Linked DNA regions of Homo sapiens: all the other regions are linked to region 1. The links come from fine-mapping of genetic effects on gene expression. A gene starts in region 1. Each other region holds a variant in brackets. All regions are shown on one strand. Distances are from middle to middle.

Region 1 (5,000 bases):
GTACCATCTTCCCTTCAAATTAACTAAAATAGTGAAAAATCTAACAAGGCCTTCACTTAATTATCAGAAACTTCCTAGCCTGCCACTAGCAAGGGTAATGCTTAAGTCAGCGATGTCAGGGATTGTACAGCTTAACCTTGACATAAACTACTTAAGTGTTGTTCAATGGACTCTACATTCACAGGCCCATTTCATGGAGTCACATAAATTTCTCCTCCCGCATTACATACCTGAGAGGTCAAACGTACCACCACAGAATCTGGATCCTAGGTCAGTTAACAAAACCTGCAAAATCTTGAAGGAATCTGTTTTCTGCATTTATCATTCAGCTCCTTAGTAACAACTGCCAAGTATTAGGAAACCAGGCGAACCACAAGCACTTTTTTATGTGTCTCCCTGAATATATTAGTCAGAAATTAAAGAAGAACTGAGAGGCTTCTGGTACTTGTGCAGTGTCATCTAAAACAATGTTAACTTTACTCATTAACACCACACGACATTTCACAAAGTATATTCGGTTGGATGTCAGTGTAGTTAAGGGTAAGTGCTAAGAAAGCAAGCCACCACCTTATACGCTCTTCTAGCCAAGTACTCAGAAGGCCTCTGATCTTAAACACCGGGAATGAACACATTTGTTCCTGCAAAGCCAACATGTTTAAGCACAATTTACAAACCTAGTTATAATACGGTCTAAGTGTCAAACAGATAACCCTTTCATAGTCTCTGCATCCCTCATTCCTCCCTCCCAAACAAAACCAGCCTGAATTGCCCACTGCATGCAAAAGGCTATTTTGCTTCATGCAAGTCTTACTACTTTCCATGGCTCACAGTCTCCAAGAGACTAACCCTCTCATTTACTAACTCAAACCTTAAACTGCCTCCAACAACTTCCCTCTCTTCTTAACCCCCACTCAGCAAAGACATCTCTGTCAGCGAAGAAAGCTGCATAGGAGGCTTGGAAGTGGCTGCCTCTGCAAATTCCCCGCCCCCCACCTTCCTACCAAAAGGGCACTTCAAGAACTTTACCATCTCACATGAAAGTTGCTCCAATTCCATTCTCCAAAATTGGATTTGAGCATGAAAAGTTTCTTTTTACAATCAACTGCTATTTAGGCTACTGATCACACTTAACTTGCAACTTGCTTTCTACACAAATTAAGAATGCCATCTAGTTCTCATGTATGAGCCAGCACTGGGGGTGTACACACGCGTGCGCACACATATACACAGCCTCCTCCACCGAAGGCATTTCCTGGCACAAGGGGCATCCTAAACTTGCTCCATTTCCAAGGTGTGACCCTCTATCCCCAAATTCATCCCTTTTTCTTCATTTCAAAGTTCAGCCTAATCCGCTATTTTGCAGCAGCTATGGCCATTTATCCCCCTTGATTTCTTGACATCATCTTCTCTGCTTCTGGCTGGGGAACTTTTGATTTGAATACAGTTGTCTGTGTGGGGATCCTTCATGTTAATGATGTGGTGAGCTGGCAGGGATGATAGGTGAGAGTACACAGTGTACTTTTTCTAGTTACGTTTCGCCTCATCACTGCTATAGGGGCCTTTCTAAACGCCTGCCACACCAGGAGAGAGACCTACAGACCCAAGCTTACCCGTTTCTGGGCAGCCTCCAGGGGACAGGTAGAAACAGAACAGATGGCCTGTTCTCCAGTATCTAGACTCAGAAGCAAGATACTTCTAACCACTCCACGAATGAAGCAAACACACGTACCTCTGGCTCAGCCAGGGAGTCACAGTCACTACCCTTCCCCTGGTTTCGGCCCCAGCCCTGTCCAGGCGTGGATGCTGCACTCTCCTCGCTGTAAACCGTCCACCCTCCCAACCCAAAGCAAAGAGCTTCCAACAGAGGTGGGAGCATTAGCGCCGTACCCGCCCTTCCCTCTCGATCCCGGCCAGAAAACTCCACTTCCCGGATTCCCGGCCACTCTCTCCCGCCCCCTCCCCGGGCGATCCAGCTAGCGCAGTCCAGATGCCAGCTTAGTGCCCAGTCCAGCTGCGAACCCCCACACTCCGAGCCAGGACCCAGTAAGAGATCCCAGCTTCCTCCCTCTTCCAGGACTGGGGTTCCCCAGATTCTGGACGCACCCCTCAAACATGCTAGGGCTGAAAAAAGTCCTACCCCGCCCCCCAGCCACGCCGCCAGCCTCCAGCCCAGCCCCGGAGGGGCCTCCTCTCCAGAGGCTAAAAGGGACCATGAATGGTTGCCACAGTAGCCTTCCCCCGCACCGCGCAAGGGTCCTCAGACCCCCGAGGAGGACAGACCCGCGTGGCCCCGAAGGGATACCTCCCTCTCCTCCCGGAAGCCAGCAGGTCCCCGCAGGGAGTGTGCTCTCAGAGGGTCCCCGGGAATCTGGGGAAGACTTGGGGGGTGGCTGGATTCGGGTGCAGCCCCTCCCGGGGCGGGCGGAGGTCGGCGCTGCGGCGCGTCCCCGGGGGGCACTCACGATGGTCACGCTGGCTTTGCGCAGGTCGCGGTTCTCCTCCTGCAGTGCCTTGCACTTCAGTTTGTAGGTCTCCAGCTCTATCTTCAGCACCTTGTTCTCTTGCTGCAGCGAGGCCAGGCGGTTGGTGAGCTCCTCCAGGCGGAACGGCGAGATGACAATGCCCCCCGACTTCCCACCGCCGCCGCCTCCCCCGCCGCCACCGCCGCCGCCCGAGGTCGACGAGCAGGACGACTGCATGGCGGCCGAGCTGCTGCTGTTGCCCCCCGCCCCGTCCGTGTCGCTCTCGCTGGCGCTGTCCGCCATGGCCGCGGCGGGCTGGGGAAAGGAGGAGGAGCAGCAGGGAGGCGGCGGCGACGAAGGCCGGGCTGCGAATGAGTGGGCGCCGGGCGAGCACAGGGGAGCGCCGAGCTGAGCGCCTGGCACCAGGGCGCAGACTCGGAGCGGCGGCGAGAGAAAGAGAGGGCGCTTCCCGCTGCCAAGGGACCTCCTCTGCCAGAGAACAGAGACCCCGCCCGGGCTTGGGCAGTATTGCACTGGGGCTCGCTCCAGCCGGGCTGGGCGCGCTCCCTAGGCCGCCCAGCAAAGCTGGCTGAAAGCTCCGGGACCCGCCCGCCGCCGTCTGGTGACCACGGGCGGGCTGGGAACGCGCAGGCACTGCGGGTGCGGGAAAGCCAAGGACTGCCCCCGCACCACCAGCTCGCCAGCCACACGTGTTCCAAGGGAGGGCCTCCGAGCCCCCTGATCTAAGCCCACGGCCGCCCAGCCTCTTCCGGGCTCGCGCCCGCCCCGAGAAAAAGGAAACCTGATGCCCCACCAGCCTCGCAGGTGCCGGGGACACGTGGAAAGGTCAGCCGGGCTCCGGCACCCATCCTCTACCGTGTTGTGGCCCCATCTTCCGCCGACTGTGTGTGCGCGTGTCTCCCTCTATCTGTTTCACACATACACGCAGTTTTATATTCTCAAAAGCAAGGTGTTTTTGACTAGGAAGGCTTGGATAAACCTAAGAGAACAAAGTTCCTCTACAAGAGGCCGAGGAGGATGAAACAACAGCAGCCACAGGTTAACCTTGTTAAGTAAGAATTTGCAGGAGAGACACACATCTCCTTTAATAACCTCATAAACCACACTGCGCTCAATTGTTTAAACAAGGTGCAACTGTTTTTTTCTTTTTCTCTTTGCATTTTGCAAACATTTCCAGCACATGTCTCGTAGTAGGATTAAGACAGTAACATTTACCTAATGAAGAAAAAAAAAAAGGAAGGCGAAACACTTTTAGTAGAAGATTGAAACACCTCTTTAAGTGCCAATTTTCCAAAGTAACTGCGGACATAACATTATGCTATACAAATAGTAATGATTGAGTGGGAGTGCAACATCACCCGTCTTTGCTATCCTCTTGCTCACTCCTAGAAAACTTTAGCATGTAAAAATAAAACAGTAATTACTGTAATGCGGTCTAATTCATGGTTCTAGCTTTGCAGTTTAAGAAATTAAAAATCAAAAACTTTTATTCCCCCTTCCTCTTCCCAAAGAAAGGCTTGCAGGAAATTGGCCCAGCAGGTGAGATGATTCTAAACACTTTGCCCTGTTGACACAAAACAGCTTTCACTTATGTATAAAAATTGGAAAGTGAAACTGACCAGACTAGTTTTATTACCCACGCTTAGTTAACATTACAACAAACACATGGTAATAGAAAATAGAAAAAAAAGTGTAATTTTTTTTTCTGTTGGGTTGAACTTTCTGAAAGATTTCTAAAGTGTTAGGAAGAAAGAAGAATGATTCTTATTCCCACTCCCTCATTATCTTTAAACCTAAATTTGATCTCATGATTAAACGGTGATTCAATGGCTCTTGGAAACTGGCACCTCAGAATAAACTCGAAAACACCAAGTGTTCCAAATGACATCATCTTTCACCAAGATGGCTGCTTTTAGCAAACAGCTTAAATGCCAACAGCAACTAAACCCCAGTTTCTCCCAGGTATTTTTTAGCTTAGTGCTGGAGGGCTTCTGAACTCTGTCACTGTTTGTATAGCAGGAGGGAGGAAATGCTTGGCTTTGCTCTTGAGAAACATATAGGCAATCTAAATCATTCTGTTACAAGTGATCCAGTTTAATTTGCACTGAAACTTAGTTCTCTCACTTTTTTGGGATCTAGTACATGAGACAATGAGTTAAATTGGAAACGGATTCTGGAAAGCTCACTTGAGGGTTGAAATGGAAGAGTAAAGCTAGCAGGGAGAAGCACCACAGGGGGAAACAGATTTAACAACATTCTTTCCCCTTTATTCAGCACTGTGATCGAATCTTAAGAGTAGGTCTGGCTGCCATACCTCACAAGTTTCTATTGCTCCCTATTCCATATTATCTTAAAGCTTCCACTTTTAGAGCTTATTGCAACAGGAACATTCCTTCCAGGCAGAGCAGGGGGCAAATTAACTCTCTCTTAGCGTCACCACAAAACTAACCGCCTTGGAAAGGCGGACTCACACTGCTTCAAGTCAGCAGAGGGGTGGAGTTTGAAGCGCCTGGTTTT
Region 2 (7,892 bases), 120 kb before region 1:
TATGAACTTTAAAGTAGTTTTTTCCAATTCTGTGAAGAAAGTCATTGGTAGCTTGATGGGGATGGCATTGAATCTGTAAATTATCTTGGGCAGTATGGCCATTTTCACGATATTGATTCTTCCTACCCATGAGCATGGAATGTTCTTCCATTTGTTTGTATCCTCTTTTATTTCCTTGAGCAGTGGTTTGTAGTTGTCCTTGAAGAGGTCCTTCACATCCCTTGTAAGTTGGATTCCTAGGTATTTTATTCTCTTTGAAGCAATTGTGAATGGGAGTTCACTCATGATTTGGCTCTCTGTTTGTCTGTTGTTGGTGTATAATAATGCTTGTGATTTTTGTACATTGATTTTGTATCCTGAGACTTTGCTGAAGTTGCTTATCAGCTTAAGGAGATTTTGGGCTGAGACAATAGGGTTTTCTAGATATACAATCATGTCGTCTGCAAACAGGGACAATTTGACTTCCTCTTTTCCTAATTGAATACCCTTTATTTCCTTCTCCTGCCTAATTGCCCTGGCCAGAACTTCCAACACTATGTTGAATAGGAGTGGTGAGAGAGGGCATCCCTGTCTTGTGCCAGTTTTCAAAGGGAATGCTTCCAGTTTTTGCCCATTCAGTATGATATTGGCTGTGGGTTTGTCATAGCTAGCTCTTATTATTTTGAAACACGTCCCATCAATACCTAATTTATTGAGAGTTTTTACGATGAAGAGTTGTTGAATTTTGTCAAAGGCCTCTTCTGCATCTATTGAGATAATCATGTGGTTTTTGTCTTTGGCTCTGTTTATATGCTGGATTACATTTATTGATTTGCATATATTGAACCCGCCTTGCCTCCCAGGGATGAAGGCCACTTGATACCATTTGACCCAGCCATCCCATTACTGGGTATATACCCAAAGGACTATAAATCACGCTGCTATAAAGACACATGCACACGTATATTTATTGCGGCATTATTCACAATAGCAAAGACTTGGAACCAACCCAAATGTCCAACAATGATAGACTGGATTAAGAAAATGTGGCACATATACACCATGGAATACTATGCAGCCATAAAAAATGATGAGTTCATGTCCTTTGTAGGGACATGGATGAAATTGGAAATCATCATTCTCAGTAAACAATCGCAAGAACAAAAAACCAAACACCGCATATTCTCACTCACAGGTAGGAATTGAACAATGAGATCACATGGACACAGGAAGGGGAATATCACACTCTGGGGACTGTAGTGGGGTGGGGGGAGGGGGGAGGGATAGCATTCGGAGATATACCTAATGCTAGATGACGAGTTAGTGGGTGCAGCGCACCAGCATGGCACATGTATACATATGTAACTAACCTGCACACTGTGCACATGTACCCTAAAACTTAAAGTATAATAAAAAAAAAAAGAGTATTTGTAGAATGAATGAAATGATATTGGAAATAGTGAAGTTACAATACAAAAAAAGAACCTTATAGTCTCTAAAGTTTTAACACTAATATGTTCATTTGATCCTAAAGACACCATTTTCATTCCTCTTTTATAGATGAGGAAATAGAAGCTTAAAAATTGCACTTAGACCAGACTTGAACTCACAGGACTCTTTCTACAGCACCTGGCTACCTTAAGCCTTGAGGCTTCATGCCCAACACTAATGTGATGAATTTGGGTAGTAAGTCCCCAGGATTAATAATTTCCCAATAGTGGTCTACCAGAACACAGGCAAAGCTCCCCTGGTGAAAGAAAAGTAGATCACAGGCTTAACTCGAATTTAAACAGTTCTCTGCCCCACCACAACCCCAATTTTTTTATTATACTTTAAGTTTTAGGGTACATGTGCACAATGTGCAGGCTAGTTACGTGTGTATACATGTGCCATGTTGGTGTGCTGCACCCATTAACTCATCATTTAACATTAGGTATATCTCCTAATGCTATCCCTCCCCCTTCCCCCCACCCCACAACAGGCCCCGGTGTGTGATGTTCCCCTTCCTGTGTCCATGTGTTCTCATTGTTCAATTCCCACCTATGAGTGAGAACATGCGGTGTTTGGTTTTTTGTCCTTGCGATAGTTTGCTGAGAATGATGGTTTCCAGCTTCATGCATGTTCCTACAAAGGACATGAACTCATCATTTTTTATGGCTGCATAGTATTCCATGGTGTATATGTGACACACTTTCTTAATCCAGTCTATCATTGCCCAACTTTTCTTTAGAGACAGGGTCTCACTCTGTTCCCCAGGCTGGAATGCAGTGGCATGATCATAGTTCACTGCAGCCTAAAACTCCTGGGCTCAGGCAATCCTCCCACCTCAGCCTCCTGAGTAGCTAGAAAAACAGGCATGCACCACCATGCCTGGCTAATTTTTAATTTTTGGTAGAGATGGGGGTCTCACTATGTTGATCAGGCTGGTCTCAAACTCCTGGCTTCAAGCAATCCTCCTGCCTTGGCTGGAAGGATTGTTGGGATTACAGGTGTGAGCCACTGTGCCAGTGCCCGACCAGCAGGGGTGCCTTTTAATGTTTCTCAGGTACATTCAAAGAGCACAAACATAAATCCACAAAAGACTTAAAACAAGTTTTTATTGTTTTAAATTTCAGAAATTGTATTTTTTATCTTTAAAGATCAACTTAGGTTTTATTTTCAATTTTTCTGACCATGCTTATACTTCGCTGTCTTCTTGAACACATGGAGAACGTTTATAAGTCTCTGTTTTCACATCCTTGTCTGTTAATTCTATCATTGTTTCCCTGAGAGAAAAACATCTGTTTTTCTGAGTCTGACTTTCCCTTTTTTGTTTTTAAGATGAAAAATTTAAGATTAATTACTAAGATCTCCTCTTGGGGTAATTAGTAATCTTGAAAGTTGCACTAAGTTATCAGTAGAGTATCAGAAAATAAGACCTTTGGAAAAAGATCTAAATATATTCAGCTCAATAGCACTCAATGCAATATGAAACCAGGGATGATACTGGACAGAAAACTTTAAGGAACAGGAATTCAATCCCTCATGTCAACATATGCATCAGACACAAACCATAATTTACCATGCACTGACTTCTTGTTTTTCTAAAGACAATGTTTAAAAGTTTGAGCTGAATTATATATTAGTGACAGAATTGCATTTCCACAAGTTTTTAATTTAAATAGCCTACATGTTAAAACAAGGACCTCTCAGATTTACTTAAGAGTTCTACATAAACACAAAAAATGTTCTAGACCAACCGTTTCAATTTTAGAGGCACCATGTGGACACATAGCCTTTAAAAGATATTAAAATTTTATAAAATACACATGCAGCTTAATCTTTACTTACTTGTTTTCAGAGCACTTTGTTTAAATAATTTTCTTCAAATTTGACCTGAAATAAGAACAGCTATCTCCACCAGTAGAAAACTGAGGCTAAGGCAGGACGAAGGTTAAGACTTGAATCCAGAGGTCCTGGGAAATTCCTTGGCTAATATTTTCACCAAGTTACAACTAAAATCCAGCTGCCACGGGTAGAGAGGAGTTTTGTCATTTGGTCATTTCAACCAAATTAAAAACTCATTGCTTTCACGAAGTTAAAATGGAATCCTGCTTAAGCCAGAGTCAGTCAAGATTCACTGAAGGTTTATTTACTTTTATATAGAAAACAGCCTAGATTTAAACAGTCTGCACTCATAAGATGGCATCACATCATGCCTGTAATCCCAATACTTTGGAAGGCCGAGGTGGGTGGGTCACCACCAGAGGTCAGGAGTCCGAGACCAGCCTGGCCAAGATGGCAAAACCCCGTCTCTACTAAAAATGCAAAAAATTAGCTGGGCGTGGTGGCAGGCACCTGTAATCCCAGCTACTGGGAAGGCTGAGGCAGGAGAATTGTTTGAACGCAGGAGGTGGGGAGGTTGCAGTGAGCCGAACTCCAGCCTGGGTGACAGAGAAAGACTCTGTCTCAAAAAAAAGAAAAAAAAAAAAAAACGACGGCATCACAAATGGGTTCTTGAAAACTATACTCCCAAGAGGATCCCACTGAGTACTGTGCATTTCTTCCACAGAATGTGGACTCTAACTACTATGGGCTTACGAAAATGCAACTGACAAACCATATACCCCCAAGCATGTGTAAAACATTACCCCAAATACTCATTCATTGGATGGATGTGGAAGAGACTAGTCCACGTCTGATTTTGTGTGTGAAGGACTATACTGTACCATCCATCAATTTTCTTATTTTAGCCAGGCACATAAATAACATTTTTATTTTACAGGTAAGGAACTTGAGTCCCAGAAAAGTTAAGTAACTATCCCAGGAAAATAATTGGTACTCAAACCTAGAATTGATCCCAAAGCCATGCTTCCAACAAAGTAGAGAAAAAAAACACCAAACAGGTGGATTGAAACTTTAAAGCTCACGAAACATCCCAAATGTGACATCCAAATCCTGTACATAAATATTTGTATGTAACATTTTGGAAATGGGCATGGTTTTCCTTTTCATAACCTCAGGTTTACTGCTTTAAACTGAAATACAACACAAATACAGAGCAGTGCACAAATCGTTAAGTGTACGGTTTCATGAATTTTCAAAACCTCAACACATCCAAGCAGCCAGCACTCTGATTAAGAAACAAAACTAGCCAGGCATGGTGGCTCACGCCTGTAATCCCAGCACTTTAAGAGGCTGAGGCAGGTGGATCACCTGAGGTCAGGAGTTTGAGACCGGCCTGGTCAATGTGGCAAAACCCCGTCTCTACTAAAAATACAAAAATTAACTTGTATTGGCGTGTTGGCACATACCTGTAGTCCCAGCTACTTGGGAGGCTGAAGCAGGATAATTGCTTGAACCCAGGAGGTGGAGGTTGCAGTGAGCCAAGATTGCACCACTGCACTCCAGCCTGGGTGGCAGAGTGAGACTCCGTCAAAAACAAATAAGCAAAACTATACCAGCCCTTTTCGTGCCATCATTCCTTATTTTTTTTTGGAGATGGGATCTTCCTTTGACACCCAGGCTGGAGTGCAATGGCGCAATCCTAGCTCACTACAGCCTCGAACTCTCAAGGCTCAAGTGATCCTCCCACCCCAGACTCCTGAGTAGCTGGGACTACAGGCTTGTGTCACTGCACCCAGTTGTTTAAATTTACTTTCTAAGGCAGCCTTTAGAGTTTACAATTTAAGTTAGATGTCTGTCAGAAGCAACAGAGAAACAATGTTTTATTCCCAAAAACCGAAATGAAAAAAGATAGGGTTTAAGGCTCAAGAGGTACATTTTAAAAAATTATCTTTATTTAGGTTTCTGATTCAGCACATGTATCAAAGACTAATCAACATAAAGGAGTAAATAAGACATTAATTGAAAGTCTTACATCTCTCTAAACTCTGACCAAGAATGTCAAGATTGCCACTATTACCAGAACTCCAACCTAGTCAAGTTGTAGACAAGCTATCATGAACAACATACAGTGTGCACAGATATGCAGAGGCAAAAGGCATGCTAGCGCTTGGCTCTCCTCTTTTCCTTGTTGACATCTTTCTGTTGGACAGTCCACTTTCGCTTTCCAGGCTAAGTTCCAAATCAAGTCCAAAGAAGGCTCAGGGGTCAACCTGACCAGATACTCTTCTGGAGGAATGCATTCTTAAACTGTTGTGCCTGCAACTTTGTTTTTGCCAGGATGAAGTTCAGACCGAGATGTACAATACAATCTAGATGACGGTGCAGACTAAGTCAAGAACTAAAGTTGTGCAGTAACCCGAGTTAAGGCATGAATGCAGACACACACATGCACACACACAGCACCCATGCTATCAAGACACAGGATTTTTTCAGTTGCCTCATGAGAGGCAACCTGGGCTTGGCAGTTAATCAGAACTGCTGAGCATTCCAGAAAATGCCCCCCACGACTTTATGCTAACAGCTGTGTGTATGTTTTAATCAAAAAATTAAAGAAGAAAAAAAAA[C/A]CCTAAAAAACAAAGAAAAAAACAAACAAAAAATCACCAAAAACCTAGAAACCCCTTAATCTCTTACAATGGCTCTTGAGCATGGAACTCATGTAGCAGCATCAATGGCTGGCTCTTTAACAATTTGGAAATAAAAGGTTGTTTTACTATGTATTTCTTTGGTAGTCATCACTACAAAGTTTTCAGTGTTGGTTACCTATAAGACAAGTACTAGACAGAAGATCAAGTTACACAGAAATATTTCTTCTGTACTGATAAGATACAAATATTGAGCTCTCAAAGCACAAGTTACTATGCTTTTTCTTGCCTTATTGGGCATTCTCTAAAAGCAAGGCTTTGTGCAGGAAAAGTTCATGTCTACCTAACAAAGGGTGATACATGTTCTATTTTCCTACAAGTGAACAATTAACAAAAATTCACATTATCAATTATTTCTGGTTGAATTCTGTTAGAAGCCAATTACAAAGGGACAGTAGCACTTGGTGTCAAAGCCACTTTCTGGTCACACATTCATTCCATGGTTGCTAGTCAGTATCTCAGGAGCTCAGAATTTAAAACTCCTTTCAGTCAACGAAGGAGTAAGTTCAATTAAAGGCTTCCACTATCTGCCAAATTTCTAGAATTCTGTCTAGAGTGCTAGCATGCTTGATGAGAGAAAGCAGTTCAGAGCCCAAAGAGGTGTCAGGTATTAGGTAAGTTAATTTGGTTTTGTATAAAAGGCATGGTAATCTGGCAACAGAGTACTTATCCTATTAGCAGCACAGTGGTAGCCAAGGGTCTCTGTCTGCAAGACAGGAAAATGAAGCTACTGAAGCCCCTGTTGCTCCCACCTGCCTGCAGGACGGCTACTGATTTTACAAAGGCCTTCTGGGAGCCAATCCAGGGCTCACCTGGGAGAGTGGGTAACAGAATGGCAGGAACCATGTTCAGCCCCCATGAGAAGTGCCCGACTGAGGGAAGTCAGCTTCCCATAGGTGAGGGGGCTGTTGCCATTATGGGCTCAGAATCTAAATCTTACTGATCCCTAGTAGTAAGACAATTGCCAAGAAATTGTCCTAGCAGGTACTACCCAAGTGTTACAGGCTCTGCATAGGTCCTCAAACACTTTAAAGGACACGAACCATCAAATTCAAAAGAGTAGTGTTTGTTCTATCAGTTCTGAATGTCCACAGGGAGAGGCAACTAGATTTATGTGGAAAAAGTGCTGTTTGAAGGAGCTGTGTTTTATTTCGAAGTGAAATGACTTTGGGAACCAGAACATTTCTGCAGATGTCTGAATATCAAGAACCTATCTCTAAAAGGCATTTATCAGGAAATGTTCGCTCACTCCAAGTGCTTTTTAAAAATTCAACATATGGCAATGTTTTAATTTTTGTGCTTTCAAGAGGTAACTAAATCGATAGGAAGCTGAGGGAAGATCATTCCATTATGGACTTTCTTGTTTGGGTGCAAGACACTATCCACAGCATTGAAATCTATAATCTCATAAAAGATTCTTATAAACATATACCATATTTCTCCTATAAGAAAAACTGAGAACTGTACCATGAAGGCAAAATTTGTTTGCCTACTCTCAGAATTCCTTGGAATGGCAATGTACCAGGAGGGTGAGTGAACTGTTGGTGAAAATTCCGGGTTTGACATGGCCCAGTCTGATCACATCAAAAACCTAAAGCCTCAATGATTAAATGCCAAACTTCTTCCCTGCATCTGAGAACTGTATTATGATTATGTATATTACACATACATTATAAATAAAATTTATATAGACCTACAGTTTCTTCCAAACAATTGAGTGATGTTCTCAGTTTGGGGGTGGAAGCAGGAAGAGGTGAAAAAATCTTATTGTTGCTTTTACTCTCAAGTTCTTAAAACGCTAGTCAAACACTATTATCCAACAAGACTTTTTTTTTTCATTCTGTTAACTCTTAAATATGCATTCGAAGGCAAAAATGGAGGTTT
Region 3 (6,429 bases), 35 kb before region 1:
CTGTTTTCCTGCCAAGCCCACCACCACTGGACCGTGTGATTTTCCTGCCCAGCCCACCACCACTGGGCCATGCAGATACGTTGTCCAGCCCGCCGCCACTAGACCGTTCCTGTGATTAAGGTGGTTCTTCTATTCAGCTCACTGCCACTGGACACTCTTCCCTGGATGAAAGCCTCTAATAAAACCCCACATCTCATTTGCTGGCTCCAGGTCTCTTATTTGGCCTTTTGAACCTGGTGCCCTCCCTACTGAGGTTGATAGGGGTTTGGCATGACAACTCTAATTTAACTTTATTCTTCACGCTTTCCTCCCCTTCTCTTTCATGGCTCACTGTGCCTAAGCGTTACAAACAATATGGTTTATGATGAACACCTGCTTTCCTTTGAGATTCTGGAACTTTGGTACATGCTAAGCAGAGCCAGCCCCCAGTAAAAACCCTCGGCTCCAATGAGCTTCCCTGGTAGATGACACTTCACACGTGTGGTTACAATGCCACATTGGGGGAATTAAGCACATCCTGTGTGACTCTACTGGGAGAGGACTCTTGGAAGCTATGCTTGGTTTCCTCTGGACTTTGTCCCATGCACCTCTTTCTTATGCCAATTTTGCTTTGCGGCCTTTTGTTCTAATACATCTTAGCCATGAGTATTACTAGATACTGAGTCCTGAGTCTTTCTAGCAAATCACCAAACCTGAGGGTGGTCCTGGGGACTCCTGACACACCCTATATCTAAAAAGAATGCCTTTAACCTGTCTTTCAAAAGCCAATGGGAGCCATAGGAAAGAGCACACTTCATCCCTACCACGCCCTAATGATCTCAGTGTAGTGCTATAAACTATAGCCCAAAGTCTTCCAGTTAAGTGCAACTTTACTAAGAGGGACATGAGAGCACTTAGCCAGAAAAGCCTCCCTCAGATCTCCAGACTTAACCAACTGCCAACCTGTCGTCACCACCTGGACAGCATATAGGCACCTCCAACATAATCGACCCCAAACACCTCTCTGGATTCCTTCCCCTCTGTCCTAAGCAGTGAGACATGGACTTGCTCAGGCAAAAAAAAAAAAAAAAAAAAAAAAAAAAAACAGAAAAAAGAAAAAAAAAAAACAGAAACAAAAACAAACAAACAAAAAAACCAGCAAGAAGTAAGCCTTGGTTTTCTTTCCCTCACTACCCTTGTGCCTATTTAGCCCATCAGAAAGTCCTGTTTCTAATGGAAATAAATCTTGAATGTCTTTCTGGCCTTCTCATTGCCTTTGCTCCAGCCACTATCATTCCTCATCAGGCTTACAACAGCCGCCTACCTGGCCCTGCTGATCCTTCCACTCTTGTGCTCATACAACCCGTGCTCATTCTGCACACCCACAGTTTTAGAGATGGAAAACTGACCACTTTGTTACCCTGCTCAAACCCTCCAAAGGCTTCCCATCACACTAAGAAATAGTGATTCCTTGCCCTGGATCATCTACCGGCCCTCCCGTGGTCCAGCCTCTGCCTGCCTCTTGCCCCGACACCCACGACACTCCAGCCACTCCAGCATATCTGTTCCCACACATGCCACACTCATGATCCCTGTTGTGGTATCCAGGTACTAGCTAGATTCTCTGCCCCATAGCAGGCTGGCTACCTGTCATCTCAGATCCCCCTGAAGAGGCTGTCTCAGCCATCAAACCTAAAGAGCCCTCACCACCATTCACCACCCCATTACACTACCTTCTTTCCATCGAGGATGTATCTTGCCTACTGCCACAGAGATATCTTTTTACTGTTTGTCACCCCCACCAGAATGTAGGCTTATGAGCACAATCAGGGCCACTGGTGACTTCAGAACCTACAATTGTGCCTGGCATATGGCAAGTACTCCGATACTGGTTAACATATGGGCAACTCATTGAGACGTGGAAAAAGGCTTCTCTTAAACTCAACCTTTTCTCCCCACCCGCCTCTGCTGGTTAACTGAAGTTCAAAGCACTGAGTCAAGTTCTCATGACAGAAAAAATAAGGTACTATCACTGCTCTTGGAGGAGCTCAGAGTCTAGTAGTTCCAGATCCATCACCACTTTTCACACCCCCACATCCACTTGCACAGATGCCACTGATACCAAAACACAGCACTATACTTGGTAGCTCTAACTCTTCCATCCTGTCACCACTGTTGGATCATGAATAGAGCTGCAGTGGATGGTACGTGAGTGACCCCCAGCATTAACTTTCTTCATCCTCTTTTTGAAAAGAGGACTCTCCTACAATCTAGAGGACCACCCAGCTAGATTACATATCCCAGACTCCTGGACAGGTAGGTGGGGCTATGGGGCTAATTTCTGACAAACAGGAGATGGATGGAAGTGGTATGCAACTTTGGAGTCATAGCTTTTAAAAAGAAGCAGTTATCCATGCTGCTTCCCACTTTTCACAGGCTGGAATCGAACTAGAAGTTATAAGGCAGGTCCCACCACAATGGCAAGGCTAACATCCCGCAAGATGGTACAGCTATGAAATAGGAAGACCCCAGTGAACAACCTCATGGAGGAGTCAACCACCAGCCCGGGACTATTAAATGAGAGCACCATGAACTGAGCAGCTGTATTTGGGGGTCTCCCCATCAGCAGTTTAGCCTCTGCCATACACAATTCCTGAAATGAAAACTCATCAGTATGAGAGGAGAGTCAGTCAGATCTATGTTTAGAAATGAAAAGCTCGCCTGAGATACAGTAAATTGGAGAGGCAAAATGCTAAAGACTATGCACATTATGATCCCATGAGTGAAGTTTTATTTAACAAGAATATATAAATAAAATGCTTTCATGTATTATACATGAGGAGAGTTTATATTATATAAACATGTA[T/C]AAGTATTATGTATATAATTGTAAATATTTTAAAAATTAATAGAACTGTGTCTAAGAAATGTTAACAGTGCCTCTGGAGTTGTTAAAGAGGCTAATCTGTCACACCACATTCGCAGAGCTAAGAACACCGCCTTGTATATACGAAGCACTCAAGTACGTAAAAATAAACATTCACCTTGTGTTTACATGTGTATACACGTACACACAAATCTCGGAGGGACTGCTTTGTAGGCAATGGATTCCCAAAGCTCAACATCAAGATTTCACTGGCATCACCTAATACTCATTAAAAAAAAAAAAAAAAAAAAAAAAAGTTGATGCACTACTGATGCCCAGACCCTTGCCCTGACAAACTGGGTCAGCTCTGAGGGATGGGGCCCCAAGGTTCCATTGAACAGTTTGGTTGGAGAGCCTGGAGCAGATAAAAAGATACAGCGCTAGCTAATCAGGAGACCTTAGCCCTCGTCCTGGTTTTGCTGTTAACTCTTAATTAACCTTGGCAAGCTACTTTCTTTCTTCAGCCTGCCTACATTTCCCCATCTGTAAAATGGGAGATAATATGAAGTCCTTTATGGCACAGCACACATCCTGCCTTGTGAGGGGGCAGGGGATCCACGCTGCTTTGAACAAAAATTCCCACTAAGTATTCCCCAAATTCAGTTGCTAATTGGCAAAAGAAAAAAAAATAGCACTCTGATTAAATATAAGGATACAAGTTCTCCTCCAAAAGTAAAAGGCTCCTCAAACAAGGGACTTAAAGGGAGGAAGAAGGGAAATGGATTACAGGAAACTAGAAAATTCTCAAGTATAAAGAAAATAAGGAGCCAATTATTAAAAGCACTGCTAATGTTATCCATCCCTTGTAACCTCTGTGCTTACACATTTTACAAAATTGGTTCACATTACACGCACACTGTATCCTCACTCCACTTACTAGATTTTAACTATCTCTATGATTAAATGTTCCTCCAATAATTTTTGATGTTGTAAACAACCTATCTCACTGATGTGCCAAAACCATCTCTCTACTGCCTGACATTCCTTCCAGTTGTTTCCAATGCTTCTGCCCTTTGAAGAATCGTTACAATGAACATGCTTGAACAGTCTGAGGCTGTGCTAGCTGGATGTTTCTTCCAGCAGATTCCCCAACCTTGGGTATCAGTATTCAGTTAAGATACGGAGACTTAAGCAAACAGCTGCCTACATTTGCAGCTACAAAGCTGTGTCTGTTTCCTGTGCTGTTGCAGGTAAGAAAATGGTAGCCAATTTACATCCTGTTCCTTGTCTCCTTGCTCGTGCGAAGGTGTCCAGGGGTTGGGCTTCTGAACTGACTTTCTATGGAAGCCAATTCCTCCGAAGAAGTAAAAGACACACTGCTTTAACTATAAGGCTGGCTTTGTGAGTTGGAGGTTATTGATGTATGAACATTTTCTAGTTTTCAGTGAGTAAAGAGGGACGGAAGGTTTAACCTCTAGCAAGGGGTTAACTTTCAGCATCAAGTTTCTATTCTAGTTGGACACAAGGATTTCATGGTCAAACTACATCTCACCACCTTGATACCTGGGGCTGCATCCAGTCAAAGAGGATAACTTTCCAGATGGGGGGGTGGGGGAAGGTAACAACATTAGAAAGTGCATAAGCAGTAACTCTTCCCTGCTAGAACTTCTAAGAAATATTGCTAAGCTGTCATTAGGAATTAAGGTGAAAATCTAGCACAGGTCCTCGATCCTTTAAACACAATTCCAAAACCCAGAAGACTGAAAACCGAAAGCTACATTTGGCAAGCAACCAAACAACTGCGTTCACTTGGTGGCAAGCCTGATCTGAATTGACATGAGGCTCTTTGCAGCTTTATCATCAAACTTAGCATGCCTGTTCACATGTTTTGCTGAGGTGGTTTGATGTGTCTGCTGTTTCAATCCTCTGGCGGTGCTACAGTATACGTGGTAGGTGCTCAGTACCTTTCCATAGCTCCACTCCCTTTTATGGGATGGACTGTGTCCTTGAAAAAGATATGTTCAATTCCTAACCCCACATACTTGTGAATGTGACCTTATTTGGAAATAGGTTCTTTGCAGATGTAATCAAGCTAAGATGAGATCACTGGAGTGGGCCCCAATCCAATACGACTGCTGTCCTTATAAGAAGGGAAAATACAGACAGAAACATACAAGGAGAAGATGACCACATGACTTCAGAGGCAGGAACTGAAGTGCTGCAGCTGCAAGCCAAGGAACGCCTGGAGATACTAGAAACTAGAAGAATCACAGAAGGATCTTCCCCGGCCAGAGGTTTCCAAGGGAGAACAACCCTTACCAACACCTTGATTTTGGACTTCTGGCCCCTCCAGAACTGTGAGAAAATTAATTTCTATTGTTTTATGCCACTCAGTCTGTGAAACATTGTTACAACAGCCTTGGGAAACAAACAGACCCAACTCCCACCACCAAAAAAACCTAAATTCTAAAACATATCTGGCCTCATGGGATAAGAGACTGTGGAGCTATATTTTAATATTTAGTATTTTAATATGCCACTTTATTCTGAATATTTCAAAGTAAATGCAGGTTTTTCAATCTTGGTTTCTGACAATGGTATTTACCTAAATTTGTGATGATTTTGTAATAGACTGCTAATTTTTAAAAAAAAAGAAGGACAGAGAACACATATGTAGCTTTTAAAATTATCAAAACAGAATAGTTAAAACAATCCAAGTACATCTTAAATCTTCTATATGAGAATGAATGTTCCCCATTCCTATGATGTTGAGGCAGTAGCACATTTAGACACAATACAGCTGTCAAAATCCCAAATGCTGCAAAATCAACCATGGTCAGTGAAGATCTATGACATCTAATACTGAAAGAAAACGAAGTGAAAGAATGGTGAAGCATGTCCGAAGCGTAGACATTCATTTCCTTACACATTTACCTAGCAAACACACACACACACACACACACACACGCACACACCCCTACATAGATTCCATATGCCAGAAGGCACAGGGAATATAATAAAACTATAATGAGACAGGACCTTACACTCTAACAGGAATGTAACAAAGGCACAAATTGATCTTCTCCCAGTTCTAAAATGTTTTCTTTGGCACTAAACTTGCCTTTTGTTCTCCTATCCAACCAAGACTAGAGTTTCTGTAATTTTATCATTTTTATCAAACATATTAAAATTATCACATTGAAATCCTCCGTTTACAGAAAGGTGGTTCATGGATTAACCAAAGATATACAGAGATCAATATACAAAGATATTCACAGAAATGCCATCCATACCAATGCAAACAACCAATTCACTAACAATACTCCTATTCTGCCAGTGAAGGCAGAATGCTCCCTCCTGCAAACTTTGCCTCAAGCTGTCTACATTTGAATCCCCAGAACCTATGAAAATGTTACTTACATGCAAAGGGGAATTAAGGGAACAGATAGAATTAAGGTTGCCCATCAACTGACTTTAAAATAAGGAAATTATCTTGGGTTCTCTGAATGGGACCCGTATAATCACAGAGGTCCTTTAAAATGGAAAATGGAGGCAGAGAAGAGATCAGAGTGATGCCTAATGATGAC

Direction of the effects. Positions count from the first base shown, and alleles are read on the strand shown. Sizes are in standard deviations (SD) of each study's normalised expression. Not every link is listed here.
As copies of T replace C in region 3, the expression in tibial artery of the gene that starts at base 2,897 in region 1 goes down (small effect, 0.24 SD a copy in GTEx).

Evidence for each region.
Region 2: its variant is fine-mapped to the expression of CCDC6 in blood mononuclear cells (TOPMed, PIP above 0.99).
Region 3: its variant is fine-mapped to the expression of CCDC6 in tibial artery (GTEx, PIP 0.97).

Annotation. Positions count from the first base shown.
Region 1 is chr10:59,903,660-59,908,659 of GRCh38, forward strand. CCDC6 (coiled-coil domain containing 6) reads right to left here and starts at 2,897. Exons shown (of 9, transcript NM_005436.5): 1 at 2,463-2,897. The coding sequence starts at 2,765. RefSeq lists enhancers at 1,610-1,839, 4,532-5,000 and silencers at 2,360-2,639, 2,670-3,009, 3,192-3,486.
Region 2 is chr10:59,783,527-59,791,418 of GRCh38, forward strand. It overlaps CCDC6 (coiled-coil domain containing 6), which reads right to left. Exons shown (of 9, transcript NM_005436.5): 9 at 5,221-7,892. Among named protein-coding and RNA genes, the nearest start is that of MRLN, 34 kb to the left of the region's middle. RefSeq lists an enhancer at 6,406-6,907. The variant C/A (reference allele first, on the strand shown) is at 5,931.
Region 3 is chr10:59,868,336-59,874,764 of GRCh38, forward strand. The region is part of intron 1 of CCDC6 (coiled-coil domain containing 6); the gene reads right to left. Among named protein-coding and RNA genes, the nearest start is that of CCDC6, 35 kb to the right of the region's middle. RefSeq lists an enhancer at 4,656-4,950. The variant T/C (reference allele first, on the strand shown) is at 2,846.